Homo sapiens: one gene and its partners. The protein of the gene in region 2 interacts with the protein of the main gene of each other region in a biochemical or structural test. Each region holds a gene or a part of one and is shown on either strand. Other genes may lie near its edges. The genes, in order: ITGB3, ANKS1B, COIL and ITGB2.

Region 1 (7,516 bases), on a different chromosome or scaffold from region 2:
TCAAATTAAAAAAAAAATCATGGATGACCTGGGAATCTCAGAGAAGTAAAGAACTGACTCCTAATATGGCAACTTGTCAGGAATATTCAAAGTTTTCCGTTATTGTCCACAGATCCTGAGACTGGACATAAATTTTCTCCAAAAGAGCTAGACACAATCCCTTTGTGCCGTGTTATCTGATGCCAGAACACTGTTTAGCTGTTCACCCCACAGGCCAAAACTGCTATTTGCTACCTCATGAATGCAGCTACAGGTTATCCCCACATATTGACAAATAATATTGGTCTTCAAGACCTGTGAACTTCATTCCAGTAGCTCAGACAAGATTCCTGATTTGATTCACCTGTTAAATACATTTTCTTCCCCCTTTGATACAGTTTCTTCATATAAAACATCTTATCTAAAGAAAATGTCCCATTAACACTCTCATGGACTCTGTCTTAGTAACTGAAGATTATAATCACAGGCGTGAGCCACCACACCTGTCTTAGTAGCTGAAGGTTATAATTACAGGCATGAGCTTCCACACCTGTTCCCTGCCACTATTTCTAAGGACTTCTTGGATCCATGACTATCCCTCCCCGCCCCCTATTTATCCCTCTACCATACTGCCATTCCCTACAGTAAGGAGTAATCCATGGGTGAGACAGGGCTCAGTCATTGCCCCATATCTAATTCCAAGGCTTATTCTCAATGTTAACACAATAATACAGAATAGATATTTCAGCTACTTATGGATTCCTCTTCCCTAATATGTGGATGCAAATGTGTGCAAAGTGAAGAAAGAAATAATAACTAAATGAAGCTTAAGTGCTACATCAGGAGAGACGTAACTATTAACAAATGTTGGAAAACGGGTTTGGAGAGAGGATAGAATGAGACTTTCATTGAGAAAGGTGATATGGAATGACATCTGCTCTTGCCAAAGCCAGGTCTCTCAGATCTCCCAACTAAAAACACAAACAGTATCAATATCCCAGAGAATCTTAACCGCACATTTGATGACACAGTAAGTCCCAGCATCTTAGAATGTTGATACTGAAAGAGACCTTCAAGACTGGCTGCTAAAATCCCATCATTTCTCAAACTAGAAAACAGCTTTAAGAAGAAGAAAGTGACTTGCCTTAATTAAAGATTATTTAGCTGTAACACTGAGGCCAGAGCTCCAGTTTTCTGCTCATGGAACAAATGTTGATAAGTCTTTCTTTTTTTCTTGGGCATTTGGGGGTGGCTTTTAATGTTGGATGTATGTCAACACCAATGGAGCCACTGCTTTTCTGGGACAAAAGAACAGTCCCTCTTCCTCAGGAAAGGTCCAATGTGTCCACACATCTATCCCCATAGCCTTCTATCATGAGAGAGCCCCTCACAGATCCAGCCACTGGCCAGTGACTTGCTGTGAATGATGCCAAGTGGGAGTGTCTGTACCCTGCCCAAGTCTGTGTGGTTTCCTATGCTCTCCTTCTTTGCCATCACATAAATTTACAAATATAATGCAAGCATGTTTATATACATGTTCTTTTAAGTTAAGAAAACCTCATCATGAGAAAAATAAAATAAAATTGCACTGTGGCCTCTCAGATTAAAGACTGAGTTAAAATGAGGTTGTCCAACCCATAGAAGAACAGGCCACACGTGCTGATACAACTGACCCATCATTCCATCCTGGCACTTATTCCCAGCCAACTCATGGGAATAATTCCTTCACAAGGCAGCCAAGAGGTAGAAGGTAAATACAATCAGCCCCATGGATGGATACAGCACACCAAGGCACAGGGCCAGGTATGTGGAGGTGCTATGGATGAGGGACAGGAGGCCGGAAGCATAGGGCCAGACCTCTGGCTCTACAATAGCACTCTCTCCCTTTGAGGAAAAGCATTTGGTCATGAGAGACATCCCCAGCTCATAGCAAATGTCTACAGCAGTGAGGGTGTGGAATTAGGAGGTAAAGAGATGGTGCTGGCCTAAGGGTGACACACTTCTTCTAAACAAACCTCCAGAGTAGAGCTGCCAATAAGGCAAATCTGAAGGGTTGTGATTATGAACTGGGAGATGCTGGTACATCCCCCAGGCCATGAATGACCCCTGAGTGGCCCAGACATCCTCACTCCCAACAGGTCAAAGAATTAGCTTGCAAGGACTTCCCTTGCGAGAGAACCATAGCTGGGTTGAGGGGATGGCAAAAGGCACAGGCAGCTCTAATAGTTCAGCTCTCCCTGACTCCTCCTTCGGCCTGAGGGAGGGGAAAGGAGGCAGAGGTACAGATGACCCGGGCTGCCAAGCCCAGCAGTTCCTACCATAGCTGCTGAGAGTCAGGCCTGAGAACCATAAATTTATGAACTCAGGGTAGAGCCAAGGCTTGGTGTCCCTTCCTCTGGAATGAGAGGCCTCAGCCCTGCCCTTCTCTTCAGGGACAATGGCCTGATGAGGAAAGCTGGCTTCTCACTGAGGTAATGAAGAACACCTGCTCAGCTCCATAGTCACCCTCAAGCTAAGCAGGAAGAATCCCTGCAGGAGGCATTCTGGGACAAAGGCTAAGGAGCTCAGCTTATCAGGACACATCACAATTTTAAATTACACACTCCCACACACAACACACACACATAAACACACAGACCCCCACATACACACACACAGACCCACACTTCCACATACTGACATTCTCCCAACCTACCCCACTCTGAGCCCCAAATCCCTCCCCACAAATACTGTCCTCTGTAAACATGATGGCAGGGACTCCTGCAATCGTGGCACAGGCTGATAATGATCTGAGGATGACTGCTTATCATTAAGTGCCCCGGTACGTGATATTGGTGAAGGTAGACGTGGCCTCTTTATACAGTGGGTTGTTGGCCTGTGGAGGAAACAGAATAGCATCTTACAGTGACTTCCTTAAGTCCTTCCCTACCCTGAATGTTTAAAATTCATCTCAGAAGTTTTCCCAAGGCACCGTTCTCTGGAATACATCATCAATGAAACAGAATAATGTTCATTTTGCTCACACTTTAGTTCTTGGCATGGGAATTGATAGGAAATAACAGGAGGAGATGAGGTAGAATGCCATCCTGCCACCGTTTCTTTTTTTTTTTTTTTTTTTCAGACAGGGTCTCATTTTGTTGCCCAGGCTGGAGTGCAGTGGCACAATCTCGGCTTACTGAAACCTCCACCTCCCCTGACTCAAGACATCCTCCCACCTCAGCCTCCCAAGTAGCTGGGACTACAGGCACACACCACCATGTCTGGCTAATTTTTGCATTTTTTTGTAGAGATGGGGTTTCTTCATGTTGCCCAGGCTGGTCTCAAACTCCTGAGCTCAAGCGATCCACCTGCCTCAGCCTCCCAAAGTGCTGGAATTACAGGCATGAGCCACCACACCTGTTCCCTGCCACTATTTCTAAGGAGCTATATTCAGCCTATCACTCTTCAGTGATTCCACAGCATTCGGGGATAGAACCTCTCCTATTTCACCCCTGTGTCCCCGTCTCTTTTGCCCTTCTCCTATTTTCCATTCCCTGTGACAGTGATAGGAGATGTGGACAAGGGACAGAAATGTATCAGGTGCAATTCAGAACACAGAGGAAAGCTTTTGCTCAAATAATTATTAATTTGTTTTCATCTAATCTGGCCAAGCACTAACCATGGCCAGGCATGGTGGTTTATGCCTATAATCCCAGCACTTTTAGGGGCCAAGGTAGGAAGATCACTTGAGCCCAGGAGTTCTAGACCAGCCTGGGTAACAGAGTGAGACCCTGTCTCTACAAGGGAAAAAAATACAAAAATTAGCTGGCTCGGTGATGTGTGCCTGTAGTCCTGGCTACTTGGGAGGGTGAGGTGGGAGGATCACTTGAGCCCAGGAGATGGAGGCTGCATTGAGCCATGATGGCACCACTGCACTCCAGCATGGGTGACAGAGCGAGACCCTGTCTCAAAAAAAGAAGGAAGGAGGGAAGGGAAGGGAAAGAAAAGGAGAGGAGGGGAGGAAGGGAAGGGGAGGGGAGGAAGCGTAAAAGGAAGGGGAGGGGAGGAGAGGGGAGGGGAGGGGAGGGAATGGGAGAGGAGGGGAGAGAAAGAGAAAGCACTATCCACAAACTGTCATGTTATCAGGAAAAAGTAAGACCCTCACTAGGTTTCCCAAACTATTTTCCAACAGAAAGTAACAAATCCTATAATGGTAGCTTCAAGAAACACATTCTTAGCCAGGCGCAGTGGCTCACGCCTGGAATCCTAGCACTTTGGGAGGCCGAGGCGGGTGATCACGAGGTCAGGAGTTCGAGACCAGCCTGGCCAACATGGTGAAACCCCGTCGCTACTAAAAATACAAAAAATAGCTGGGCACAGTGGCTGGCGCCTGTAATCCAGTTACTTGGGAGGCTGAGGCAGGAGAATCACTTGAACCTGAGAGGCCAAGGTTGCAGTGAGCCAAGATCGCTACACTCAAGCCTGGGTGACAGAGCAAGACTCTGTCTCCAAAAAAAAAGAGAAAGAAACACATTCCTGTGGGCCTCATAGGTACAGGATGTTCCACACTGTTCTAACAGAAACATCTCAGTTTCTTGGGACCCTTGAGTATAAAGCTCTGGGGTCAACATCAAATGGGAACAAACTTGCAGCCTAACTCTGGACATTTGGGGAGTCAAATAGCCATTTGGAGGGTCGAGGAAAAAAGTTGAAATGTGAAAGAAGAGCCAAAAGAGAATAGAGTAAGATTAAGTATATAGAAAGTTCTCAGTAAATGCTTATTTAATTGGAATAAATCAGGATAAAAGAGTAGAGTCTGATTTGGAAGTAACCTTTTATTTTATTTTATTATTATTATTATTATTATTATTATTTTTGAGACCGAGTCCTGCTCTGTCACCCAGAGCAGGGTGCAATCTCAGCTCACTACAACCTCTACCTACTGGGTTCAAGCAATCCTCCTGCTTCAGCCTCCCGAATAGCTGGGATTACAGGCATGCACCACCACACCCGGCTAATTTTTATATTATTAATAGAGACGGGGTTTCACCATGTTGCCCAGGCTGGTCTCGAACTCTTGAGCTCAAGTGATCTGCCCACCTTGGCCTCTCAAAGTGCTGGGATTACAGGCACGCGCCACCAGGCCCAGCCTGGAAGTAACCATTTATTTGAGGAGAAAGAAGAGAATGAGATGGAATGACATCCTGCCACTATTTCTAAGAGGCTGAAGGAAGCTGAAGGACAAGGGGATAGTGAGACCATCTCTCCCAGTTTCCAGAACAGAGGATAATGGAAAGACGATGGTACTGGCTGAACATGACCACCCAAAGCATCTGCTGCTTCCACTTAAGAGTCTCAGACCAATGACTTTAGAAAACGCCCAGCCCCGTCTCTTACTGTGTCCCATTTTGCTCTGGCGCGTTCTTCCTCAAATTTAGCGAATTCTTTTCGGTCGTGGATGGTGATGAGGAGTTTCCAGATGAGCAGGGCGGCAAGGCCAATGAGCAGAATGGCCCCCATCACTGAGAGCAGGACCACCAGGATGTCAGGGCCCTTGGGACACTCTGTGAGGAAGAAGCACAGAGCAGGGCGGTTGTGAATGAAGCAGGAGTCACTTGAACTGGCTATGAAAAAGGTGTTCTTGACAAAGTAACTAAGGTCCTTGAAGGAAATAGGACAGTTTTCAAAAATTAATTTTTTTAAGGAGACAATCATTAGGACAGCAATAATCTGCACTGAGTGGCTCAAATCAGAAGTCTAGACCTGGTAACCCCTAGACAGAACCCAGCCACACCTTTGTGTGGGGGTTCACCCAAGTGTTTATTTTAAAAATTAAACACAAAGAAGAGAACACCAGACACTGGGACCTACTTGAGGGTGGAGACGGGGAGGAGGTGGGGATCGAAAAACTACCTATGAGTCACTATGCTTATTACCTGGGTGATGAAATAATAGGTACACCAGACCCCCATGACTCACAGTTTATCTACGGAACAAACCCACACATGTACCCCTAAAGCAAAAATAAAAGTTTTTTAAAAAATTAAAAATAAAAAGCCGAGTGTGGTGGCTCACACCTGTAATCCCAGCACTTTGGGAGGCCAAGGTGGGCAGAGCACCTGAGGTCAGGAGTTTGAGACCAGCCTGGCCAACATGGTGAAACCCCATCTCTACTAAAACTACAAAAATTAGCCTAGCATGGTGGCGAGCACCTGTAATCCCAGCTACTTGGGAGGCTGAAGCACAGAATCACTTGAACCTGGGAGGTAGAGGTTGCAGTGAACCGAGATCACACCATTACACTCCAGCCTGGGTAACAGAGCAAAACTCCATCTCAAAATAAATAAATAAATAAATAAATGAATAAGAAATAAAAAATTGACTTTATTGGCAATATTGAATAATCAGGAGATTCTCCCCCTAAAATTTCATATTAGTCTCTTTAAAAAGAAAATCCAGGCCAGGCCCAGTGGCTCATGCCTATAATGCCAGCACTTGGGAGGCCGAGGCAGGAGGACAGCTTGAGTCCAGAAGTTCAAGACCAGCCTGGGCAACATAGTGAGGCTCTGCCTCTACAAAATTGTCTTTTTTAATTAGCCAGGCATTGTGGCATATGCCTGTAGTCCCAGCTACTCAGGATGCTGAGGTGGGAGGATCGTTTGAGCCTGGGAGGTCAAGGTCATAGTGAGCCATGATCGTGCCACTGCTCTCCAGCCTGGATGACAGAGGGAGAGACTATCTCAAAAGAAAGAAAGAGAGAAATACAGAAAGAGAGAGATTCTTATATTCCTGCAGAGCAGCAGTTAGCTAGAGCTGAGGAGGAGCTGCTCCTTTTAGTTGGAACTCATGTTTTCTAGTTTACCAGAATCCCCACCACTCTCCCTTCTCTCTCCTAGAGGAAGGCAGTGTGACTTGTTGGTGTGTCTGCGCTCCTGTGGATGTTACAGCCAGACTCCCTGGGTTTGAATCCTGACTTATCACTTAACTTTTATACATGATCTTTGGAAAATTACTTAACCTTTCTGAATGTCTGTTTCCTGTTTCTCCATCTTTAAAATGAAGATAGTAATAGCACTGACTTTAAAAGAAACTTGTTATGAGGAATGATTAAATTAAATATATCTTAAAAACTCAGAACAATGCCTGGCACAGAGTAAGTGCTCAGTAAATATCAGCTACCGTTGTAACGGATCTTCTTACACCCAGCTGTTTTCACTAACTTATTTGCTTCCTTAGCCACTGTAAGTATTTGTGTCTGTTATCCTGGTTCAGATATTTACATTCCTGAGGGCTGTGAACCTAATGACATTTTTTGCATTCTTAGAGACCAGGACCTGCCAGCCAAGACAATATTTTGGGTTCTTTCCCAAAATACTTAGTCATCTAAAATCATAACCCTATTGAAAGCTGCCTTCCTGTTCAACCCCAGTCAACAACTAAAACAGAGGCATGTCACCCCTCTGGGGGTCAGGCTGAGTATACTCTGCAGAGCTCTGCTTCCCACAAATGTCAGGTATCTAATAGGTGATCTTATTCCAGTAACCTCAAGTGTTATGAA
Region 2 (7,958 bases):
CCAAAATTTAAGGAATTTCAAATTATTCTTCATAGCAAAAAATGTTCAGATTGGCCTGTCTAAATTGGCCACATACCTTTAAACTTTTGTGAATAAAACAGATTCAATGAATGAGACTTAAAATGTTGTAAAACAAATCTGAATCACAGATTTTCAAATCTTTGCCATTATTAATTAAGTGACCATGGGCAAGTCCTTAATCTTATCTTTTTATTCCTTCATCTGTGAAATGACAATGGACCTCCTAAGGCTGACACAAGAATTGAATGAGATGACACGTGTAAGCACTTAGCATAGGGTCTGACACCATTATTACACAACCCAGGTAATAAAGCAAGCGGGGAAAAAGTGCCAAACATATTCTACAGTTCCTTCTAAAACATTAAGAAATTTCAAAGTGTCATTATGTTTGACGGGGGACACATTTTCCATTATCCTGCCAATAAATTTCTGATGACAATCATTTTTGAAATAAAGTGACAACTAAATAAAATGTGCCTTCTTAGGAATGTCATTTTATGCAAATGATTGCCCAAAGAATACAATTTCAACTCTCATTTTCTTCAGACACTATTCAGTATAAGATGGATAAAAGCAAGTTTAAAGGTTATTGGTTTTGTTTGTGATTTTTACAACTTGGTTCGAAGTACTCTAATAAACACATGTTGTTTACTTTTGTTTTCTATGTGCAATCTTTGTTGTAGAGCTACTACTACTACTACTACACCAGCAAAAGAGAAAACCTCTCACTCAAGATATACACTGTGGGTCACTATTTTGATACTTTAGTGTCCACTAACATTAAATACTTGGTGTTTTATCCCTAAAACTTGACATCTATTCTTTAAAAAAAAAAAAAAAAATCACAGCTGGGAAAGGAGTATTTAAAGGATGTTTGCTTTTGAGTTTTGTCACAAGGAGTGTTTTTAAAATACGATTTATCACAATAAAATTAAGTGAAATTCTCACTGTTCTCAAATAATTCCTCATGTTTTCCCGAAGAAATTGTTTATTTTGAGAAAATTCTTTCAGCATACCAGTTTTTAGACATAATCATTTTTATAACTGATGGATCCACAGCAAACGTTGTTATTTTACGTGTAACTTAAAACTGTAAAGAGATAAATTGCTTTCACATAAACTACATGTGACTACAGGCAATTATTAGAGCTGCAATCTGAAATATGCACACATTGTCTACCTGTGTTTGAAAGAGAAGATTATTTAACAAGGGAGTACACACAAGTCATCTCTATGACCTATTGAAAAAATGTCCCATAAATATTCATTCTTCTGACATGAACTATCATTCCAATAAAATGTCACTGTCAACGAGTATATAGAATAACATATGGGGCTTTTTAAAATCCCATCGACTATTTTTCAACTCAATTTATTTCACTGTAATAGAAACTTTCCATTTTCCCTTTTAGCTAGCCCTATAATTAATTGCACTGTCTGACCACCACAACCTATGAGAACTTGTGTAAAGAACGCAATGTCATCACCCAAAAGTTTCTATTAAGCACTTGTCAAGGGTAGCATGGAACAGTTTTTAAAAAACCAGGGAAATCACTTGGGCTTTCTAAAATTTTTACAACTATAGTTGGGTTATCCAAGAGATGTTTTAAGGCGAAGATATGAATGACAATTGATGACTCCAAAAATACCCAGGATAAATTGGATAGCCACGATTTTAGAAACTAAAGAGCTTCCCTTGAATTGTATCTAGTGAATACTCTCCAGGCTTCCTCCCTCCCAGTTGATTTCATTTGTCCATCAATACAACTTTTAATAGTTTCTCAAGTATGGAAATCAACCCCGCTATTTCCAAGGTACTGCTGAATGAAGACCTTGACATTTTTTTTAAATGTCATCTTAGAAAGATTCTCCAAGCAATACCAGTCTCACCTACGACATCTTCACGTTAAAAGGCCTCTACCGTACTCCATATACAGTATCCCAATACCAACCTGGCATCCTTCATCCTGAGCTATAACAACCAAGTTTCACTCAGCTATGTCCAGGTAACTGAAAGTATTGCTGGGGCTGCCTAACCTGCCCCATCAAGTTTTATACACACCCTGTGCTGAAGACATCTCACCAGAAAGAAGGTTCACTCACTTCATTTTGTGGGATCATAACCCACGGCACAGCAAACGCCTTCTGCAAGAGAAGGTAGGAGCCACCGAAGGCTGTGGCTTTTGCAGGGTAATTGCATGCACGCAAGAGATTCTCTGCCAATTTCATTTAACTAGACAAAAAAGGCTGCGTTCAAAGCTGCAAATATGTAATAAATGTTGATGGAAAGCGGGCGGAACGTCGATTTTCTTCAAGCAACACTAGTACATGTACAAGTTCTGCACCAGGGCTCAGAGGAAAAGTAGCTTACTGACGCATTGATGGAAGGCTATTTTAAAATTACTCAAAGAATCTAAGGCATCAATCTGACTGGGAGGCTCATACCTCCTCTCCATACACGCAGTCTGTTTTCCTACCTAATTTAAGAATGAATCGCTGGCAGCCACCAGGTGCAATAACCGTGAGGAGGAGGACGTATATCCATCACAATGCATAATGAGGTGTGCCAACCCCGGAGCTGGTGCCCGTCCTTACCTTAGCAGATTAGACAGGGGCAGGGGTCCGGATCCACCGCCCAGGATCCCTCCTTTCCTGCCAGACAGGAGTTTCTCCACCAGAGCCACATTTCCAGTGCGAGCAGCTTCCAGCAGCTCCTGGTCCTTCCCCATAGTCTCTCACCGACTCCCCCACAGAGTCCTTGCCCCCCTCGGGTCCTCCTCCCCACCCACCCCCACTCCCCAAAATCCAGGGCCCTCTTCGCCCCACCCTAAAATAATGCAAGAGCTTCAGCACGGAGAGCTCCCTGCAGCCCCAGGCAGGGAGCACGACTCTCTCCTCCTCTTCGGGGCGCAGCTTTTACAATGGGGATCAGACCATGTCTTGAAAGAGGGGCTGGCCGAGCTGGGAGCCGCGACGCGCCCCCACAGCCACTCCCCTGAATTCCCAAGGCCTCGTTCCCGCGGGTGCGGCGTGAGGGGGTGGGGACTCGGGGGTGCTTTTGAGGAGCGGGAGGAGGGTGGTGAGGACTGAGGTCGGAGGAGGAGGAGGAGGCGGCAGAGAGAGTCCTAGCTGGAGCGGGAGCGCAGGGAACACCCGCGGTGGCAGCAGCGGCCCGCGCGCCCTCGCGCCCGACCCGGGCTCGCCTCGGCTTCCTCGGCGGTTACGCGGGGGCGGCGTCCGCGGCGGGGAGGAGCGCGGCGGCGGCGGCGGCGGCTCGTGCGCTGTGGCCCGCGCCGAGGCAGGGCGGTGGGGGGCAGCCGCAGCGGGCGCGTGCCGAGGGCGGCGGCGGCGGCGAGGCCTGGCGCGCGGGGGGCGTGTGCGCGCGGGCAGGTGCGGCCCCTGGTGCGGCCCGAGTTGGGTGGCGGGCTGGCGGGGAGGGGCCGGGCCGGCTGAGGCGGGGCTTCGGCCCTGAGATTCTCTTCGTTCTCGTGGGCGGGGACCCTCCCTCCTCCACTCTCCTTGGAAGAGCGTTAACCGTGTGAGGACTGGAGTTCCCCGGGCCGCGTCGGCTCCTCCTCGGCCCGGCGGGCCCCGGCAACACGCCTCGGGTCTGTCACGACGCCTGAGGAAAATCCTCCGTGACAGGAATGGGGAGGCTGGTGACACTGGGGAGGGGCCCTTTGGCCACCGCTTCCATCAGAGTCTAGGCAACTTGACCGGCATTTCACCCTTCCGCTTTACCTCCCCAAGAGAGCCTGAGATCTGCCCTTGGTTAGAAAGAAGAGGCTCGTTTCGTCCTAGTTTCTGTGGCACTGGCCACCGAGCAGTTTGCGACTGTTTCAGTTTTTCTGGAGTCTTTAATCAGCCCATATTTTAGTTGGGCTTTGGAGATCTGCTGACTTGTAAGAATACCAGGAAAAAGGCTCTCATTGAAAATTTATCCACATCTACACTCGAAAAATATAAATGGGCATGGATTAGAGATCCACTTTAATTTGCATATATCATCAGCAATTCATTGTGCATGGTTGGCATGACTTGTTAGATGCTCTCCTTGGCCGTGGTGGAGAACGCGCGTTTATTTTCTATTAAAACTTCCTGTTACACCTTGTGCTTTGCATTGTCCTTGGAATAGACTTCATAAATGTTCACTTGTTGATAATTGATTGGTAAGAAGAGGACTTAATAGGCACTGTGCTTACAACAACCCAGTGAACTGGATATTATTATATCCATTTTAGAAATGAGGAAATAGGGCTCAAATGGTTAATTAAATTTCTCAAGATGCCACATGGAGTAAGTGGCTGACTCAGAACTAGACCCCAGAACAGACTCACTCCAGACACCATGTGCTTCCCAATATACGTTCCTGCCCCCCATGGAAAAGCGAAATGGACAGACAATAATTATTGCATGCATTTGATGAGTAGTTGCTACATACCAGACACTATGCTAAGTGCTTTCCATGTTCTCATTAAGCCTTGCAACAATCGCATGAGATAGGACCATTTTCATCTCTATTTTGGAGATGAAGAAACTGATTACCCGCAAGATAATAGGGATAGAAAGTAACTGAGCCAAGGCTCAAATCCGGCACTGTCTGCTGTAGGCAAAGATTTTCAATAAATAACTGGGGGAAACTTAAAAGGCATTTAGAGATAAATAACAAGAGTATATTAAAACATTTTTATGGAATTCATTGTGTTCTGAGATTTCATTTCAATGATTCAAAATATTAGGTAAATTATGGCTATTTATTGGAGGTTTCCTGAAGTATGTAGATTTTGGCTAGTGTAGTTTTTTAATTCATTTTGATTTTGTTTTCTGTGTTAGAATCTGTTTTAATAAGATAATCTATGTTATAATAATATAATCCCTGACATAATGGGACTAGCAGACCAATGAAAGAAACGAGATAAGGAGCCATCACATTCATTTTGAAAATGGCATAGGGAAATCCTTCTTCCTTTTTCCTAATGTTGCCACCTAAGCAAAACACACCTTTCCCAGAATATACTGTAAGTATTCAATTGGTCAGAACTGAAAATCACCCACAGTTTTCACAAGCAACATTTAATCATGGATGAGTTGGTGACCGCAGGCCCCGAGTCATCTTATCGAAATCATGCAGCCCCCACCCCCAATGGGAAAACCATTAGTAATGATTTACTCTAAGAATCAGTTCCACAGTTCGGGCATTCTACTGACATATGATAATCAAAGCCAATTTTTCAGCTTCAAACTCTTTGGTTTTAGTGACCTCATAACTTTGTTTTTCTGTAGACATTGCAGTGACTGCACCTCATAGTTTTTTGTTGAAGAGGATAAAGGCTTTGGCTACATGGGGACTAACATGCAAAATAAAAGTGAAAACATTCTTTTAAAAATCTACAGAGGCCAAAATAAATATCCAGATCTTTTAAACATCCAGATTTCATCAAGATGTTTTGCATCTGTGAATAGTGAAAAGAGTGATAGAATCTTGGGAACCAATTAGACAATCTCTATCTCAGTGTGTGCATAAGTAAAATGAAGAAGTTATGTCGGATGCCTTCCACTGGCCTTGCCAGCCATAATATTCTATGCCTGTGATGAAACGTGGTCTTAGTCCATTAAGTCATTTGCATCACTGAAGCTAGAAATTAAGTATGGAGATAGATTTGAGATTTCTATTCTGTTTTTATTTGATTTGATTTTCTGAGACAGAGTCTGACTCTGTTGCCAAGACTGGAGTGCAGTGGCACGATCTCAGCTCACTGCAACCTCTGCTCCCAGGTTCAAGTGATTCTCAAGCCTCAGCCTCCCCAGTAGCTGAGATTAGAGGCGCCCACCACCACGCCCGGCTAATTTTTGTATTTTTAGTAGAGACAGGATTTCACTATGTTGGTCAGGCTGGTCTCAAACTCCTGACCTCAAGTGATCCACCTGCCTCGGCCACCCTCTATTTTGTTTTTAATTATAAAATAAATATATATTTTTTCGGGTTTTTAAATCTATCTTTGCTATTCTCAATGGACAGTATTAATAATAGCAAATGTAGGCCGGGCATGGTGGCTCATGCCAGTAATCCCAGCACTTTTGGGAGGCCAAGGTGGGTGGATCATGAGGTCAGGAGATCGAGACCATCCTGGCTAACATGGAGAAACCCCATTTCTACTAAAAATACTAAAAATTAGCCGGGCATGGTGGCGGGCACCTGTAGTCCCAGCTACTCGGGAGGCTGAGCCAGGAGAATGGCGTAAGCCCAGGAGGTGGAGCTTGCAGTGAGTGGAGATCGCGCCACTGCACTTCAGCCTGGGCGACAGAGCAAGACTCTGTCTCAAAAATAAATAAATAAATAAAATAAAATAAAATAATAATAATAGTACATGTGTATTTTGTGCCAGGAATGATACTATACCCTTTACTTTCTCTCATTTTATTTAATTCTGAAGTAACACTGTAAGAAGATATTATAAGTCCTGCAGAATCTCTGAATCCCTTATATTTCAAATTCTGATATAAATCTACTTCTGGATACTTTTTGGCAAGAATTATTGCTCTAATATACACATACTGCAAGTCACTCTTCTAGGAGTTGATTAATAAAAGAAGGGACTAGGGGTTGAGATTAGAAGGGGGAAGTGAAGCAAATACCAGTTTTTGTATAGAAGTGTTTGCACACACACACAAAACTCTTTGGAAACATTAAAGAAATTGAAGGACCATGAATCCAGACCAATCTTAGAATTATATACCAAGGTCTGTTTTCAGTGAAGAAGAGAAAAAGATAATATCTTATAACATGAAGTTATCAACAGAGCTGAAATAAGAAGATAACCCTGTGATTTATGAAGTAGATTTACTTTCTCCATCTCAAGTTCTGAAGTTACTCTGCATCACTAGAACTATGAAGTCAACAGCTTCAGGTTACAGAATGTGAAAATACTAGACATCTGGATAGAAGAGCAGGTTCTTGCTTCCTGCATGACATTAAAGTTCTTCTCCACATGGCCACATGGCACAAACTCTGTCCCTCATCATCTTCCTGAGGGAACCCAAACACCAAGTGTATTATATTTACAATTTTTCTGAAGATTCATGGCCATGAATGTTGAAGGCCACAGAACACCAATCACCCATCTTCTCCAAGTTATAATTAGCTGAACGCAGACACAAGGAATCAAAGAGTATCTCATTAGCATATCATCTTTATTACGAGTCATATAAGGGTCTAATATCCCACAAAATCCCTGCTAAAACTACACTAAAAATGAGACGAGGGCCTACCTCTCTGTGAATGTGCACCTTGGGACCTACCTGTGGGGAAAGGTAGATCTGCAAATCTAAATGTATATACCCAGCCAGACTAATGCCTATCTCACAGATAAAGTCAGAGGAATGGAGAGAATGATCAGTTTCCAGGGCTGCCTTTGGAAAGCATGCCGAAACAGATTCTTACCCCAGAATCTCACCATCTTGGGACAGCAAGCAGAATAAAGCCCACTACCCTTCTTAGTGATCCATGAGACAGGCAAGAGAGAAAGAAAACCAGAGCTGAGCCTGTATCTTGTTTTGAAAGCAAGGTAGCCCCACCCACTAGTAAAGTGGTCCCAATGGATAGAAGTAGGGAAAGAAACCAGAAGTGTTCACTGTCTTAGAAAGAGGAGCAGAGCCTCCTCTCCTCTAGGGAAAGTCAGTGATGAGGAATAAGAGTTCCCCCAGGACCGTCACACTACACAACATTCCATCACCATCCTGCTGATTCTACCATTAACTCTCTCCGAGCCACCCTGCCTATGTGCTACTACCTTTGAAAGCCTATGTGCCCCACAGGTGACCCTGCACCTGGCCAGCTGAAAAAATATAGTCTTGTATCCACTTCAAACTATTTTCCCACCAAGAGAATCTACCCAAAATTCAGATAAATGATTTTTCACCATTTCTTTTTATTTCCC
Region 3 (7,516 bases), on a different chromosome or scaffold from region 2:
TCAGCCTGGAGTGCAGTGACGCAATCATGACTCACTGCAGCCTCGACCTCCTGGGCTCAAGTGATCCTCCCACCTCAGCCTCTCAAGTAGCGAGGACTACAAGCATGTACCACCACACTCAGCTATGTTTTGTTTTTTTTTTTTACGACAGAGTCTCACTATGCTGCCCAGGCTGGTCTTGAACTCCTGGGCTCAAGTGATCCTCCCACCTTCGCCCCCGAAGCCATTTCTTGATGCCCTAAAGAAGAAAAGTTCTAAGTGGATGTCATCACTATTAATCACCTGACAAGCACTGATCAGGCTGTATGCACAGAATTTGACAGTGGACAAACTTTTCTGTCCACCGTTCCTAAGAAAGGGGATTTCTATAAATGAAATCTCATCAGAAGAAAGGTTGGAAACCTGGCCAGGCACGGTGGCTCATGCCTGTAATCCCAGCACTTTGGGAGGCTGAGGTGGGAGGATCACGAGGTCAGGAGATCGAGACCGTCCTGGCTAACACAGTGAAACCCCATCTCTACTAAAAATACAAAAAATTAGCCAGGTGTGGTGGCGGGTGCCTGTAGTCCCAGCTGCTCGGGAGGCTGAGGCAGGAGAATGGCGTGAACCCGGGAGGCGGAGCTTGCACTGAGCCGAGATCGCCCACTGCACTCCAGCCTGGACAACAGAGTGAGACTCCATCTCAAAAAAAAAAGAAAGGTAGGAACCCAGTGTAAGTTATATATAAACATTTACTTAATATCATAAACGAACTTTGTTCAAAAACTCTTTCGACTGATTTCTGTTAGCTGAATCTTTTATTCAATCCCTTATCTAAAAATAAACAGAAGGCCAGGTGCGGTGGTTCATGCCTGTAACCTCAACACTTTGGGAGGCCAAGGTGGGTGGATCACGAGGTCAGGAGATCGAGACCATCCTGGCTAACATGGTAAAACCCCGTCTCTACTAAAAATACAAAAAATTAGCCGGGCATGGCGGCCAGCGCCTGTAGTTCCAGCTACTCGGGAGGCTGAGGCAGGAGGATGGTGCGAACCTGGGAGGCAGAGCTTGCAGTGAGCCAAGATAGCGCCACTGCACTCCAGCCTGGGCGACAGCAACACTCCGTCTCAAAAATAAACAAACAAACAAACAAACAAACAAACAGAAAACAGGCTGGGCACAGTGGCTCACACCTGTAGTCTCAGCACTTTGGGAGGCCAAGGCAGGTGGATTGCTTGAGGCCAAGAATTCAAGACCAACCTGGCCAACATGTCAAAATCCATCTCTACTAAAAATACAAAAATTAGCTGGACATGGTGGTGTGTGCCTGTAGTCCCAACTACTCTGCAAGCTGAGGCATGAGAATCACTTGAACCTGGGAGGCGGAGGCTGCAGTGAGCCAAGATTGTGCCACCACACTCCAGCCTGGGCGATAGAGTGAGACTCTGTCAAAAAAAAAAGGAAAACAATTAATTGCTTTAGGATCTTCTAAAGGAAAAGGAATCTCCCCTGCCCTCTGGCCAGGGACCCCTACAGTACACCCCAAGTTAAGCTACATATTATAAAAGCCCTCTTATTCCACGCATTCAGTTCCAGTACCAGGTGGGGTTCATCAGAGATAAATCCAGCAACCATTTAAAATGATATGTGAAAGTGTATGTATACACACACTTCAGACATTTTGTTTTGACTTAATATACAAAAGTATATTCATTTGACAATCTTTTGAAATAGAGCTGAGTAGGTCTTATGAGTTCACTGAATAGAGCTCTTTTTTTAATAAACCATACCATTGTATTGTCTGCAATTTCCACAATTTACAGTTTGGGGGTTTTTAAAATATTTTTTGAGACTAAGTCTTGCTCTGTCACTCAGTCTGGAAGGCAGTTGCACTATCTCGGCTCACTGCAACCTCCACCTCCCGGGTTCAAGCGATTCTCCTGCCTCAACCTTTCCAGTAGGTGGGATTACAGGCGTGTGCCATGACGCCCGGCTAATTTTTGTATTTTTAGTAGAGACAGGGTTTCACCATGTTGGCCAGGATGGTCTCAAACTCCTGACCTCAAGTGATCCACCAACCTTGGCCTCCCAAAGTGCAGGGATTACAGGTGTGAGCCACCGTGCCCAGCCTGGGTTTTTCTTAAATAAGGCAAGATTGCAAAAATTTGCAAGGCAATCTAAGTGCAGAATCTTCCTCAGTTTTTACAAAATTCCTCCCAATCTTTTATAGCTGACCCACTCATCCATAATTTCATAGCATTTCCTGAGTCAGCATTCAACTTAGGCTTCCTAGGAATAATTCTTTTTATAATCGATTTTCATCAGTTCATATAATCTTTTATGAAATTATATAATTACAGTAATAAGAACTAGCCCAACAGCTTTGGAATATATCCAACATCTCTTATGAGCCCCCAGGGCTAAAGTGTGCTGAAAGAAGTGGGGAGCGCCAGTTATATGGAGGCCAAGGAAGAGAACATCTCCTGTGTATAAAAGCTATTTATAAACCACTGTAGATAGAGCCTACATTTTCAAATTATTTTCTAAAAGACTCACCAGGTAAGGATGAAAGAATTTCTATATCTACTTGCTGGGTCTCTGGATTGTGGCTTAATATTCTTCCTTCCTTTCAAAAATAAAAGTCCAAGTCAAAATCAACATGTAAAACACTGTGAATATACTAAAAACCACTGAATTGTAGACTTTAAAATGGTTAAAATGTTGAATTTTATGTTATGTGAATTTTATCTCAGTTGAAAAATTTAGAAATAAATCCACATATAGAGAAAATAAAAACAGGTGGACTGATAAACACTTTATGTGAATATACAGAAATATCTTTAGAGGCAAAATAAAACATTTAAATCATAAATGGCAGACACTATCTTAAATAACTCGATGAAAGTAAAGATTACACCAGGGAACCAAAAGTGACTGAATAAGGGAAAAGGAGAAAAAAATCACACCAGGCTGATATATTCAAGTGAGCACTGACCATCACAGCATTCATCAGGAGAGACTAGATATATCCTAATGGTGCAGCCTCGGTTCCTGATGCTTTTAGAACCCTTCTAAAACAGTGATCACAACCCCCCAGGAGAAACCAGAAGGCACTTTATCACTGTTAAGATCCCAATTCTCCTTCTCCCAGGTCTCCAGCTGTGGGAGCTGATTTTCTAATGCATCAAGAGGATGCACTGCCCATGCACGTGGGCGATGGGGAGACACATGGTAGCCTCCGGGGGTATATACTGAGAGGCCAAGCAACCAGTTCCTCCTGCCTCTACCTGGAATTTCTGAGCACAGTCAACAGTTTTTTTTAAAACCAGACTCAACAGGGAATCAGGGGCTTGGGAGACTACATTTTTTAGTACAGAATTGAACCAATTTAATTTTTGGAGACAAGGTTAATGAATAAAGCAGATGATCAAGCTGGATAACTGCGTTTGAGGTCAAAGCAAAAAAGTAGGACCAATTTTCATTCTTAAAATGTTTTTGAAAGCAATTTCAAAAATCTTCAAAAAATTTTGCCAACTAAAGTAGGCAAAACACCTTCCAACATTAATAACTATGACAACTAATACCAATTTAATATGCAATTTTTTTTAAGAGTCTCGTTTTGTCACCCAGGCTGGAGTGCAGTGGCATGATCTCAGCTCACTGCAACCCCCACCTACTGCGTTCAAGTGATTCTTGTGCCTCAGTCTCCTGAGTAGCTGGGGCTACAGGTGCACGCCACCATGCCAGGCTCATTTTTATATTTTTAGTAGAGATGGGGTTTTGCCATGTTGGCCAGGCTGGTCTCGAACTCCTGACCTCAAGTGATTCACCTACCTTGGCCTCCCAAAGTGCTGGGATTACAGGCATGAGCCACTGTGCCTGGCCATTAATAAGCAATTTTTAAAAATCAGTATCATCTAGAATTACAATTTATAGAGGTTGTGGGATGTATCAATACAATATTCATTTCCATTTCCTCATATATCACACAATTAAATGTTTTCTATGGTAGGGTGACAAAACACCCTGGTTTGTTCAAGACAGGTCTGTACATCTTTCCAGCATAACTATTAATAGCATCCCTTTGACTCACAAGTATCCTGATTCAGGTGATAAATTACATGATCACCTCATCCATAGGAGATAGTAAGTGCCTAAGAAGATAAAAAACAAAACACCAACGACCTAGAACTAACCCACCAGATCCCTTCATTAACTGATTCTTCCAGCCTGCTTTTGAGGAAAGATTTTTTTTTTTTTTTTTTTTGAGATGGAGTCTCGCTCTGTTACCCAGGCTGGAGTGCAGTGGTGTGATCTCAGCTAACTGCAAGCTCTGCCTCCCGGGTTCACGCCATTCTCCTGCCTCAGCCTCCTGAGTAGCTGGGACTACAGGCACCCGCCACCATGCCCCGCTAATTTTTTTTTTTGTATTTTTACTAGAGACGGGGTTTCACTGTGTTAGCCAGGATGGTCTCAATCTCCTGATCTCGTGATCCACCCACCTTGGCCTCCCAAAGTGCTGGGATTACAGGTGGGAGCCACCAAGCCCAGCCTTGAGGAAAGGTTTCTATAAAGATTTTAAGTCTTCCAAGGCATCAATCCAGATTAAATCAAATTCCCTTGTATTTTATCTATGTTACTATATTAACACTACCAATTATTACCTTAAAAAATGGTCTTACATTCCATATAGTACATCAAAAAAAAGAAAGAATGCACTTTAACAAGATTTTCAACAAAATGTTGGTGGGTGAAAAAGAAACATGTAATTCTGTGATCCCTCTGACTGAGTCAAGCTTTTACTGAACTATGAAAAACCTCACATGCCAATATAAAGACTCATACAGATATTAAGTAAGTAAATTCCACGGATAATATTTATGAATTACCTGTGGTTACCTGATAATGCAGAAGAAATCATACTAGATCATAACAACCAGAAGTAATTCACAAATATGTAAAATAGATTCCCATGATGAAAATAATCAAATCTTCTTGCTGAGAACTATTTATTATTTTCTTTCAAAGTTTAGAATCATGAAGGAATGAATACCCAAATAAGTTGGTCTAAACTAATTAGAAAAAAGTAACTAAAAAAATTAAACTGGCTGGGCATAGTGGCTCACACCTGTAATCCCAACACTTTGGGAAGCCAAGATGGGGGGATTGCTTGAGCCAAGGAGTTTGAGACCAACCTGGGCAACATAGCAAGATCCTGTCGCTATTTAAAAACAAAAAATTAATATATTTTTTTTAAAAAAGTAAAAATTAAGCTCATCATTCTCCTACTCTATTCTTCCCAAGTATAAGGCAAATAACACAGGGAGACTTCCCAGTGATACTATTAAAGAGTTGACATTTCGATTAATGTTTTCATTTTCTACTTTCTGGCATTTTTATTTAGTAAAAAAACAAATCTGTATTATCCATACAAGTAGTATTAAATATGACTTTAGTTTTAATAATACACTGACAACTTACTTTTAAATAAACATCCTTACCTTGTAGTCAGAGACATCAGGAGAGTAACTGGATGTTAGCTCCAAAAGCTAAAAAAGAAGAAAAAACCCACAAATACATAAGCCCTCTTATCCTCTCCCATTCCCACAGCTCCTCCATCATGCCATGTTGGCGTGTCCACCCCGACCAGTCTGGGAGCCCTACCAGGAACCCGTAACAACACTGGGGTTCCAGTGGGAAGGGCTTTTACAAACACATTTAACCTGATTTTCTAAGTAAGTTTATTTGGAAGGGGAATGAACCTTTTTTGCTGTGACTGTTCTTTTGAAATATACCTTAAATGCAATCTTTTCTCCAACTTGAGGGGCAGCTGCTAACAGTGGTAACAGACTATAGTCCTTCTTGGGTGTCTCTACTGGATTCTGAAAAACAGTGTTAGTCATGTGACATCATCACTGGTGAGAAAATGTGAATCCATGACATGAACTCCACACACATTCTAAGGGGAAAGGGAGGAGATAACTTACAAAAAATAATACTTACCTGGATAATAGTAGATGAATTTTTTACCACGTCATTTAATTGCTGTTGCCTCTGGTTGTCAGTGCTTCTATTTACAACACAGGAAACAGGATGCCCTCGTCCTCGACCTCTCCCCCGCATGCCCCGTCCCTTAGCTCCCTTCCAAGAAAAAAGGTTCTCTTCTCTACCCCATCCTCTTCCTAAACTAGCAGGGAGAGACACACTGGGAGAAGCACCAGGAGCCTGTCCACCACCATTTGAGCCAGAACGCCTCCATCCAGCAGCACCTGCAGTCTGTGATGACAGCCCTGGGCCTGGACGACCTCTTCCTGCAAAAAGGCCTACTGTCTTTAAGAAACCCGCAGCACACTCCGGGGTGCTCGATGACATCAAGCATTGGTCGTCTGACTCTGCACTAGAGTCTGAACTGGAAGATGTTGTTCCAGAGGTCTTGCCCTTGCTGGGGGTAAGGCTAAAGCCAAGTTTTATAGCCAGTTTGTCTGCAGTTGTATTTTTGGTAGAGGGTTCTTCCTTTGATAACTCAGTTGGTAATTTCTCTGAGGAATTTCTGGCCTCCAAAGTGACTTTGCTGGGACCATCACTGATAGATTCATCACAAGATTCAGACTCCGAGGAGGAACTGGGACTCTCTTTTGAGCAAACGCTTACACTACCTTTCCTTTTGGCTTTAACAAGGCTGTTTCTAGCAGAACCTTTTGGAGAACTACATCTCTGATTGGCCCAGTCTTTCACTGCCTGTACTTTCGGAGACTTGGGATTCTTAGCCTTTTTTTTATATTCACATTTCTCCTTTTTCTTTGGTGATTTTCTTTTGGCCTCTTCGTTATCATCACCCACTGTGCCACAGGTTGCTTTATTTTTTCTCTTGTTTTTTTTGCTGACAGTCTGATCTGTGACAGCTTTTGGTTCCAGATCCAAGACCTTCTCATTATTGTTATTGTTCTCTCGACTCTTCCAATGCTTCTTTGAATATTTGCAATCTGGTTCAGTTTCTTCACCCTCCTCTAACTGAAATGCCCGCTTCTTTGCTTTTCTAAGAGATAAATTAATGTCACCATTACTGATGACTACAGAATTCTCAGCAACTCCTCTCTCTTCTAATTTAACTCTGTCAAAAGAACAAGAGAGAAAGCTAGAGTGAGCAATTTATAAACACATCTCCAGGACATAGTTATATACTGAGATGACTCTACAAAATGTAACTACCATCAGTCAATGAAAAAATGTCACATCACTTAAAGACAAAAGACTCTTTCTGGCAAAATGGCCTATGTAGCATTACTCACAGTCAACTTTCAAATGGCTAGTTTTATTTATTGAATAGCTACTGCATCCTAAACATTTTTAATACGTTTTTCTCTAATCTAAACACCAACACAAAGTAGGTATTTTTAATTTTACAGATCGCAAAATTACAGCTCAGACAAGTTACTTGCCCCAAATCTAGAGCTGATAAGTAGCAGAAACGCAATTCAAACTTCAGTTTGTCTAACTTCAAACTCACAATCTTTCTACAATATGCATGTCACCTACC
Region 4 (7,516 bases), on a different chromosome or scaffold from region 2:
CCCAGGCCGGGCCCCACCAGGTACCAGGGCTGTGGGACATTTGCCTCTGTGGATGGGGCAGCGTGACGCCTGTGGCGATTCCATGGAACAGGTCCTGTGTGGGCCCCCCTTGCTGCACTCGTGTCCTGTGTCAGAGAACCGTGGTCCTGCCTGAGGCCATGTCACCGGAGGCTGGCTCCCGTTCCCGGAGGAGAATGCCAGCTGCCACAGGGGTCAGTGACACAGGCATTTGCCCAGCAGGTACAGGCCAGGTCGCTGGGAAGCCCCAACTCAAGGGGCTCTGCAGTGGGCGCCTAGCAATTATGGAGCTGTGGGTGATACCCACCCCAAGCCGGACCTGGTGCCAGCAATTATCCCTCCCATTCTGCTTGGCACAAACTGGCACTGACACGGGGCATTGATTAGGTGGTTGCATTTGTCGATTCCGAGCCCATGTGTGTGGAGCCCAGGCCCTGAGCAAGCACAGAGGGCCCTGGTGCTGTCCTGAGCTGAGGCCCCTGCCCACCCCGGGCTGCGTGTTCTCTCCGGCCATTCAGGGTCTGAGAGTGCAGAAGAGTTAGCCCCAGGGGAACACCTTCCTGCCCAGCTGATTTGTAAACAGCCTCGCTGGGGACACATGTTGGTGTTGGGAGTGGTGGAGGTTTCTGTGTGTGATGGAAACTTGGGGTAGGTGTTGGGGAAAAGAGGTGCTGAGAGTCTCAGCAGAGGGCAGAGTCCAGGAGTCCTGGAGTGCAGCTCTCAGCCCCTGCGCCGTGCCTAGAGGAGAGGCTGGCAAGCCCCTGTCCCATGGATGGGTGAATGGGTGAGTGACAGTGGCAACAAGCCCATGCCAGCAGGGAGGTCCCACTGCCATGAAGCAGCGTCCTCATCAACGTCACAGTGGGAACAAGAAAGCCAGTAGCTTTGGAATCCGAAGGAGCAATTTCAGCATAATTCGTCGGCCACCATGAAATTCCATTTTTAAAATGTCCTTTATTCATTTATCACAAAAAGGGTGGAAAATACAAACAGGAATAATGAAAATTGAAAATACTCATAGTGCCACCACCCAGAGAAATGCAGAATATTTTGGAACTGTGTCTCTCTTTTTTTCCCCATAAATTCACTTTTACCACGAAGCCAAGCTGCCCTGAGCAGCTGTTTGCATGTTTTCGTTGCTGTGTGGGACTCCATAGCGCAGGCACCGAAACCGCCAAAGCATCTTACACGTTGACGGCTACACAGGGAATCAAGATATTTTGGCTGAAATCCCTGGTTCTTTCCTGGGGTGACTCATATGTTTCTTAGCCAGTTTTCTTCCTTCTTTTGTGAATTACCTGCTCAGGGTGCCACACCCTTGAAACATCCTTGAATGGAGTATTTACCTTTTTGTTATTAATTTCTAAGATCTCTTTAGAGATGAAGATTACCATTTACCTTTTGCACTAGAGAGATAATAGCTATTTCCTCTATGCAATTTGTTAGTACAACATGTGCCATTTTTAGAGTCTGTCTTCTTGCTATTTTCCCCCTTAGCTTTTTTTTTTTTTTTCTTTTGAGACAGTTTCACTCTTGTTGCCCAGGCTGGAGTGCAGAGGTGAGATCTCAGCTCACTGCACCCTCTGCCTCCCGGGCTCAAGTGATTCTCCTGCCTCAGCCTCGCGAGTAGCTGGGATTACAGGCGCCCGCCACCAAGCCCAGCTAATTTATGTATTTTTAGTAGAGATGGGGTTTCACTATGTTGCTCAGGCTGGTCTCAAACTCCTGACCTCAGGTGATCCGCCTGCCTCAGCCTCCCAAAGTGCTGGGATTACAGGCATGAGCCACCATGCCCGGCCTCCCCTTAGCTTTTATGCTGAGGTTTCCTTACTCTTAGATACCTATTCTTCTATTTCCTTTATTGTTTTATTCCCTAAAACTGAAGTCCTACACATTTGTGGCCATTCTTTTATGTCCACAGCAAGAGTGTCCGGGGCCTCGGCCTCACGTCGCCACCCAGGAACAGACAGTCTCCTTCATGTTAGATGGAGGAGTGGTGTCCCCTTGTCTAAAATGCTGTAAATATCATTTGATTTCCCTTTGACTTCAGGTATTTAGCAGAGTACTTTAGCATTCCTTATTAATATGTGTGTGTCGGGGGGGTGGGGTGTCTCATTTTATTTCATTTGGCCAGAAATTGTGGCCTTTAAAATTTGTGCTATCAGGCCGGGCGCAGTGGCTCACGCCTGTAATCCCAGCACTTTGGGAGGCCGAGGCAGGCGGATCACGAGGTCAGGAGTTCGAGACCAGCCTGGCCAATATGGTGAAACTCCATCTCTACTAAAAATACAAAAATTAGCTGGGCCTAGTGGTGTGCACCTATAGTCCCAGCTACTCAGGAGGCTGAGGCAGAAGAATTTCTTGAACATGGGAGGCGGAGGTTGCAGTGAGCCGAGATCTAGCCATTGCACTCCAGCCTGGATGACAGAGTGAGACTCCATCTCAAAAAAACAAACAAACAAACAAAACTGTGCTATCAAACTTCACAGATAGTCAAACCAACAGTAGGAACACGTCTCCCTGACCCTTGGGAAAATACGCTTTTGCAGGGTCGCAGGTTCAGAGGCGACATGGGCTGGGTTTTCCTGCATCCTCTCTGCTCCGACTTGTTCCTATTTGATCTGACCTGTTTTTGTCCCTGGATTTCCTGGAGCCTCTGTGATCCAAGGACAGTGTTCCAGTCCCCACCTGACGGCACTTCTCTCCAGTTCTTTATCACATTCCTACAAAGCAGAAATGAGTCCATCTTGATGCTCTGGCTTTTGGCTTAAAAGGTGGATGCCTAGTTTATAATCATCCCTTGAGCCTTCAGTTCCCAGCGCAGGGGTTGGCTCCCATGTCCTCTTCCTTCCAACCTTGTCCCCTGGCGGCATCGTCCATCACTTCCCGCGCACCTCCGAGTCACTTTGATGCGAGTGCCTCTCCTCTAGGACAGCGCAAGGTGGGTTTCAGCACAGGCAGGAGGAAGCTCTGATGCAAAGTTCCAATGGGTCTGCGGGGCCTCTGGTTCCTCAAGCAGTCTCGTCTTAGGGTTTTACGGGGTTGCAAAAAGGAAGCCTGAGACTGGGCACGGTGGCTCACGCCTGTAATCCCAGCACTTTGGGAGGCCGAGGTGGGCGGATCATGAGGTCAGGAGATCGAGACCATCCTGATCAACACGATGAAACCTCGTCTCTACTAAAAACACAAAAAAATTAGCTGGGCGTGGTCGTGGGAGCCTGTAGTCCCAGCTACTCAGGAAGCTGAGGCAGGAGAATGGCATGAACCTGGGAGGCGGAGCTTGCAGTGAGCTGAGATCGCGCCACTGCACTCCAGGCCGGTGACAGCGCAACTCCGTCTCAAAAAAATAAAAAGGAAGCCTGACCCCGCTGGATTCCTCTCCCAGCATAGGCTCTGCCCTCTCTCTGCTGTCTTGCTTAAAGTTTCCTTTCTTTTTCTTTTCTTTTTTTTTTGAGACAGGGCCTCGTTCTGTCAACTAGGCTGGAGTTCAGCAGTGCCATTAGGGTTCACTGCAGTCTCTCCCTCCTGGGCGCGAGTGATCCTCCTGCCTCAGCCTCCTGAGTAACTGGGACTAGAGATGCATGCCACCATGTCTGGCTAATTTATTTTCTATTTTTATTTTTTGTAGAGGTAGGAGTCTCACTGTGTTGCCCAGGCTGCTCTCAAACTCCTGGCCTCAAGTGATTCTCCTGCCTTGGCCTCTCAAAACACTGGGATTGCAGGCGTCAGCCACCAGGCTGGCCTCTTCCTTTCCTGTGTTTGCTCCTGTTCTCCTGTCCTCGACTTCTGTGAAAGGGTGTGTGTGATTTGGCCCGGATCTGCTGCAGGTCTCTTCTGACGCCGCTTTCGTGTCTCAGAGCCTGAATGTTCAGAGCTTTGCTCACCGTGAAGTGTGGTTCTTGTTAGCTGTGTCCATTTGGTGCCCGGGAGGGAAGGGCGCCCGGCCCCTGAGGGGTTCTCCGGGGAAGGATGACCTCGTCCCCCTGGTCCTGCCCCCTCAGCCCCCTGCTTCCCCTGTGCAGGGGACTTGGTGACAGGTACCACTTCCTGCAGCTGGGCTGGGGTTGCACCAGCACTTCCTTCTCGGGCAGGGTTGAGGTCAAGGGCGACTCTGATGCAAGGTTCTGAGAGGCCTGTGGGGCTGTGGATTCCTAAGCAGCCTCAGCTTTGGGTTTTGCACCTTAGGTCTTGGTAAGGGGACCCGCCCGCCCTTAGATGGGGGATGTCCAGAGCTGGAGGATGAGGAGGGCACCCGCCCCTGGTGTGGGGCAGCAGGGAGGGCCTTGGAGAATGAGGAGGGCACCTGCCCCCAGTGTGGGGCAGCAGGGAGGGCCTCAGGGTGATCAGGCTCCAGGCCAGAGCTCTGGGGCCAGCTCAGGGGCTGGGGTGGGGGGTGTCTGTGCTCTTCCTCCCCTCCTGCCCTGCAGCTCTGCCGGCTTAGCCTCAGGGCACCAGAGGTGACAGTGGCCAGGCACCTGTTTGCCCGAATGCTGCCCTACATCTGTGCCTTACCCATTCCCATCCCCCAGGGAGCTGGCACAGGCCCTTCGACCACCTCCAGGCACATGGAGGAAACTGAGGCAGATAGGCCTGATGGGGTCTTGGTCTCTCAGGCCTCAGGTGAGGCCCTGGACCTCCGTGGGCCATCCTGGCTGCTGGGCAGAGGGGCTGCCCTGCCCTGTTCTCCCACAGAAGGGAGGCTGGCTGCCAGGCTCAGTGCACTGCCTTACCTCCTGGAGCGGACCTTCATCCCCAGCTGTTTGTCTGGGCTCAGCCACTGGCATTGGGGGGTGGGGCAGGGCCTGGCTTCTCTTGTGCCCCCAGCTCCAAGCCCCCCAGGGCTGCTCATGGAGGAGCAACAGTGGGGAGAAGGTGGCTCCCCACCAGCCCCCTTCCTGTGGTCAAGGTTGGGGTGCCGTGGTCTCTGAGCCAATCCTGCTGGAATCAAGGTGCACCCCCTCTCCCTGTGGGCAGGTGGGAGTGCCCGGGGTAACTGGGCACCAGGTCCATATCTTGCTGCTGCTGGGGCCCTCAGTTTCCCCATTTGAGGGTATGAAGTGTTTGCATGCCACTGGTCACGACTGTGTTAGGGGCGGAGACCTCATGTCTGCGGCCCCAGGGAGAGCGTGGAGCTGGGGTGTGAGTCCTTACCAGCCTGGCTGGGGCTGCCAGGGGAGGTCTGCACCCCCTCCCCACTTGGCGCAGCTGCGACCTGGGGGAGTCCTGAAGCCGGCTGGACCCTGCACCCTGGGGGAGTCCTGAAGCCGGCTGGACCCTGCACCCTGGGGGAGTCCTGAAGCCGGCTGGACCCTGCACCCTGGGGGAGTCCTGAAGCCGGCTGGACCCTGCACCCTGGGGGAGTCCTGAAGCCGGCTGGACCCTGCACCCTGGGGGAGTCCTGAAGCCGGCTGGACCCTGCACCCTGGGGGAGTCCTGAAGCCGGCTGGACCCTGCACCCTGGGGGAGTCCTGAAGCCGGCTGGACCCTGCACCCTGGGGGAGTCCTGAAGCCGGCTGGACCCTGCACCCTGGGGGAGTCCTGAAGCCGGCTGGACCCTGCACCCTGGGGGAGTCCTGAAGCTGGCTGGACCCTGCACCCTGGGGTAGCTCCAGCACGCACAGGGCCTCCGATCAGCTGAGGGGCTGGTGGGCACTCGTGGCACCGAGGTCAGTCCAGGCGCAGGACTTTGAGGGGGCCCAGATGGAGAGCTGGAACTGGCCTCGGCCTGAACCACAACCCCCAACGATCAGAGATATGGGGGCTTTCAGACACAGGGTGGGCCCAATGTGAACCAAAACCACCTCCTCCAGGAAGTTACAGCAGGGTGCAGGTTCTGTTTTTGACCCCAGGACGGGAAGGATCAAGGGTTCCCTTTTGACATTTTTGTATTCTGATTATAATTTTGCTGGGAACCAGGGAATGAGGTCACTGCCAAAACAACAGGACCTTGGGGCTTGTTGGGGCGTCTAAGCTGTGGGATCCTCAGATGGGCCCCTGGTGGGTGTTCCGTTGGCCTCAGAGCCCCCAGCACAGGTGCAGGGCTTTCGGGGGATGGAGGGGAGCCAGGGCCTGTGGCTGAGGGCACCCGAGCCTCCCGGGCCACAGCACAGCACCCAGCGCTGTCTTCAAAGCCGGCAGGCCCTAGTTTGGGGCTCTGCTGGCTTGGGTCTGCCCACTGAACCTTGGGTGGCCCTGCCAGCACCACCCGAGGGAAGGGTGTGGGGCAGGAACGCCCCAGCAGCCTGGGAGGCCGTGACAGGAACTGGCATTTGCTGGAGGAGGTGTGTTGATCTTTGCTTCTGACAACAGCCCCAGGGTAACGGAAATGTCTTCCTGCCCACCATGACAGGAAGGCTCCTGGGTACCCCTTCTCAGTACCTCTCCACCTTCTTGGTGCCAGATAAAAGGGTCCCAGCCAGCTATAATGTTCTCAGGTCCTGGGAGGTCAGACCCAGGGGCCCACCCCACCTAGGAAGCCCTAAGACCCCCCAAGGAGCCGACCTAGGCCTGGTTTGGGCACCTCCCGGATGGAGGGAAGGGAACCCAGGGGTGGAACGGCCCTGCTGCCCGCTAGGAGGTGCTGCCGGCCTCCAGCACCAGGCTGAGGCCTGCTTCCGTCATTTTGCCTCTGGGGCCGAGGGCCTGTGAGTGACCACTGAGCCGCCCCTGGCTGTGGATGCGTGGGTTAAGGACGGGGTGGGTGTGTATCTGGAAACAAAAGGGCAGGACCCCGGCAACTGGTGGCTTGGGCAAGTCAGGTGACTTTTTTTCCCACCTGGCAGGGACTGCAGGGCTCCTGGGCAGGCCTAGCACACAGCTTGGCACCCGCGGGCATCAAGCCAGCTTTCTCTTCCTGGCACACAGCCTGGCACCCGCGGGCATCCAGCCAGCTTTCTCTTCCTGGCTATGTTTCTGCCACAGAGAGACAGGGCCAAGCCCAGCTCTCCTCCAAGCACAGGCTCTGCTCACGGAGGACCTGGGGCACACTGGGGCAGAGTGCACACACCGGGTGTGTGGGGTTCTGGTGTTTGTGTGCGTGTACATTTGCACGTGTGTATGGTGTGTGCGTGTGGTGTGTGTGTCTGTGTGGTGTGTATGTGTGTGTACGTGTGCATGTGTATATTTGTGTGTGGTGTGTAGTGTCTTGCGGGGAGTATGGTGTGGGTAAGGGGTGTATACATCTCTGTGTGTACATATGTGTGGTGTGATGCATGTATATGTGTGGTGTGTGCATGCACGTGGTGTGTACATGCAGTCAGGCACACATCTGTATGCACGTACACGTGCATGTGTGGTGTGTGTACACGTCTGCATGTGTGTGTGTGCCTGTGTTGTGTGCCTCTGCAGGGGCCCGCTGCAGCTGTCCTGGGTGCCTGGCTGAGCAGGTGTGCTGCCCGCACTGCTGAGCCCGGGATCCCTCCCTCCCTGGCTGTTGGCAGCTGGGCCCAGTGCAGCTGTGCTGGCCTGACCCTAACCCACCCCCTGCAGCAGGGACAGG

The links.
Region 1: the proteins of ANKS1B (region 2) and ITGB3 form a complex in vitro, tested with the Homo sapiens proteins (one study listed by IntAct).
Region 3: the proteins of ANKS1B (region 2) and COIL form a complex in vitro, tested with the Homo sapiens proteins (one study listed by IntAct).
Region 4: the proteins of ANKS1B (region 2) and ITGB2 form a complex in vitro, tested with the Homo sapiens proteins (one study listed by IntAct).

Annotation. Positions count from the first base shown.
Region 1 is NC_000017.11:47,305,477-47,312,992, reverse strand, and holds part of ITGB3 (integrin beta-3 precursor), read right to left. Parts: intron 5,523-7,516; coding exon 5,356-5,522; intron 2,855-5,355; coding exon 2,789-2,854; 3' UTR 1-2,788. UniProt on the Homo sapiens protein: Integrin alpha-V/beta-3 (ITGAV:ITGB3) is a receptor for cytotactin, fibronectin, laminin, matrix metalloproteinase-2, osteopontin, osteomodulin, prothrombin, thrombospondin, vitronectin and von Willebrand factor.
Region 2 is NC_000012.12:99,981,488-99,989,445, forward strand, and holds the start of ANKS1B (ankyrin repeat and sterile alpha motif domain-containing protein 1B), read right to left. Parts: upstream 3,450-7,958; 5' UTR 2,751-3,449; coding exon 2,617-2,750; intron 1-2,616. UniProt on the Homo sapiens protein: Isoform 2 may participate in the regulation of nucleoplasmic coilin protein interactions in neuronal and transformed cells. Isoform 3 can regulate global protein synthesis by altering nucleolar numbers.
Region 3 is NC_000017.11:56,943,907-56,951,422, forward strand, and holds part of COIL (coilin), read right to left. Parts: intron 7,091-7,516; coding exon 5,983-7,090; intron 5,862-5,982; coding exon 5,775-5,861; intron 5,529-5,774; coding exon 5,481-5,528; intron 2,606-5,480; coding exon 2,536-2,605; intron 1-2,535. UniProt on the Homo sapiens protein: Component of nuclear coiled bodies, also known as Cajal bodies or CBs, which are involved in the modification and assembly of nucleoplasmic snRNPs.
Region 4 is NC_000021.9:44,910,887-44,918,402, reverse strand, and holds part of ITGB2 (integrin beta-2 isoform 1 precursor), read left to right. Parts: intron 1-7,516.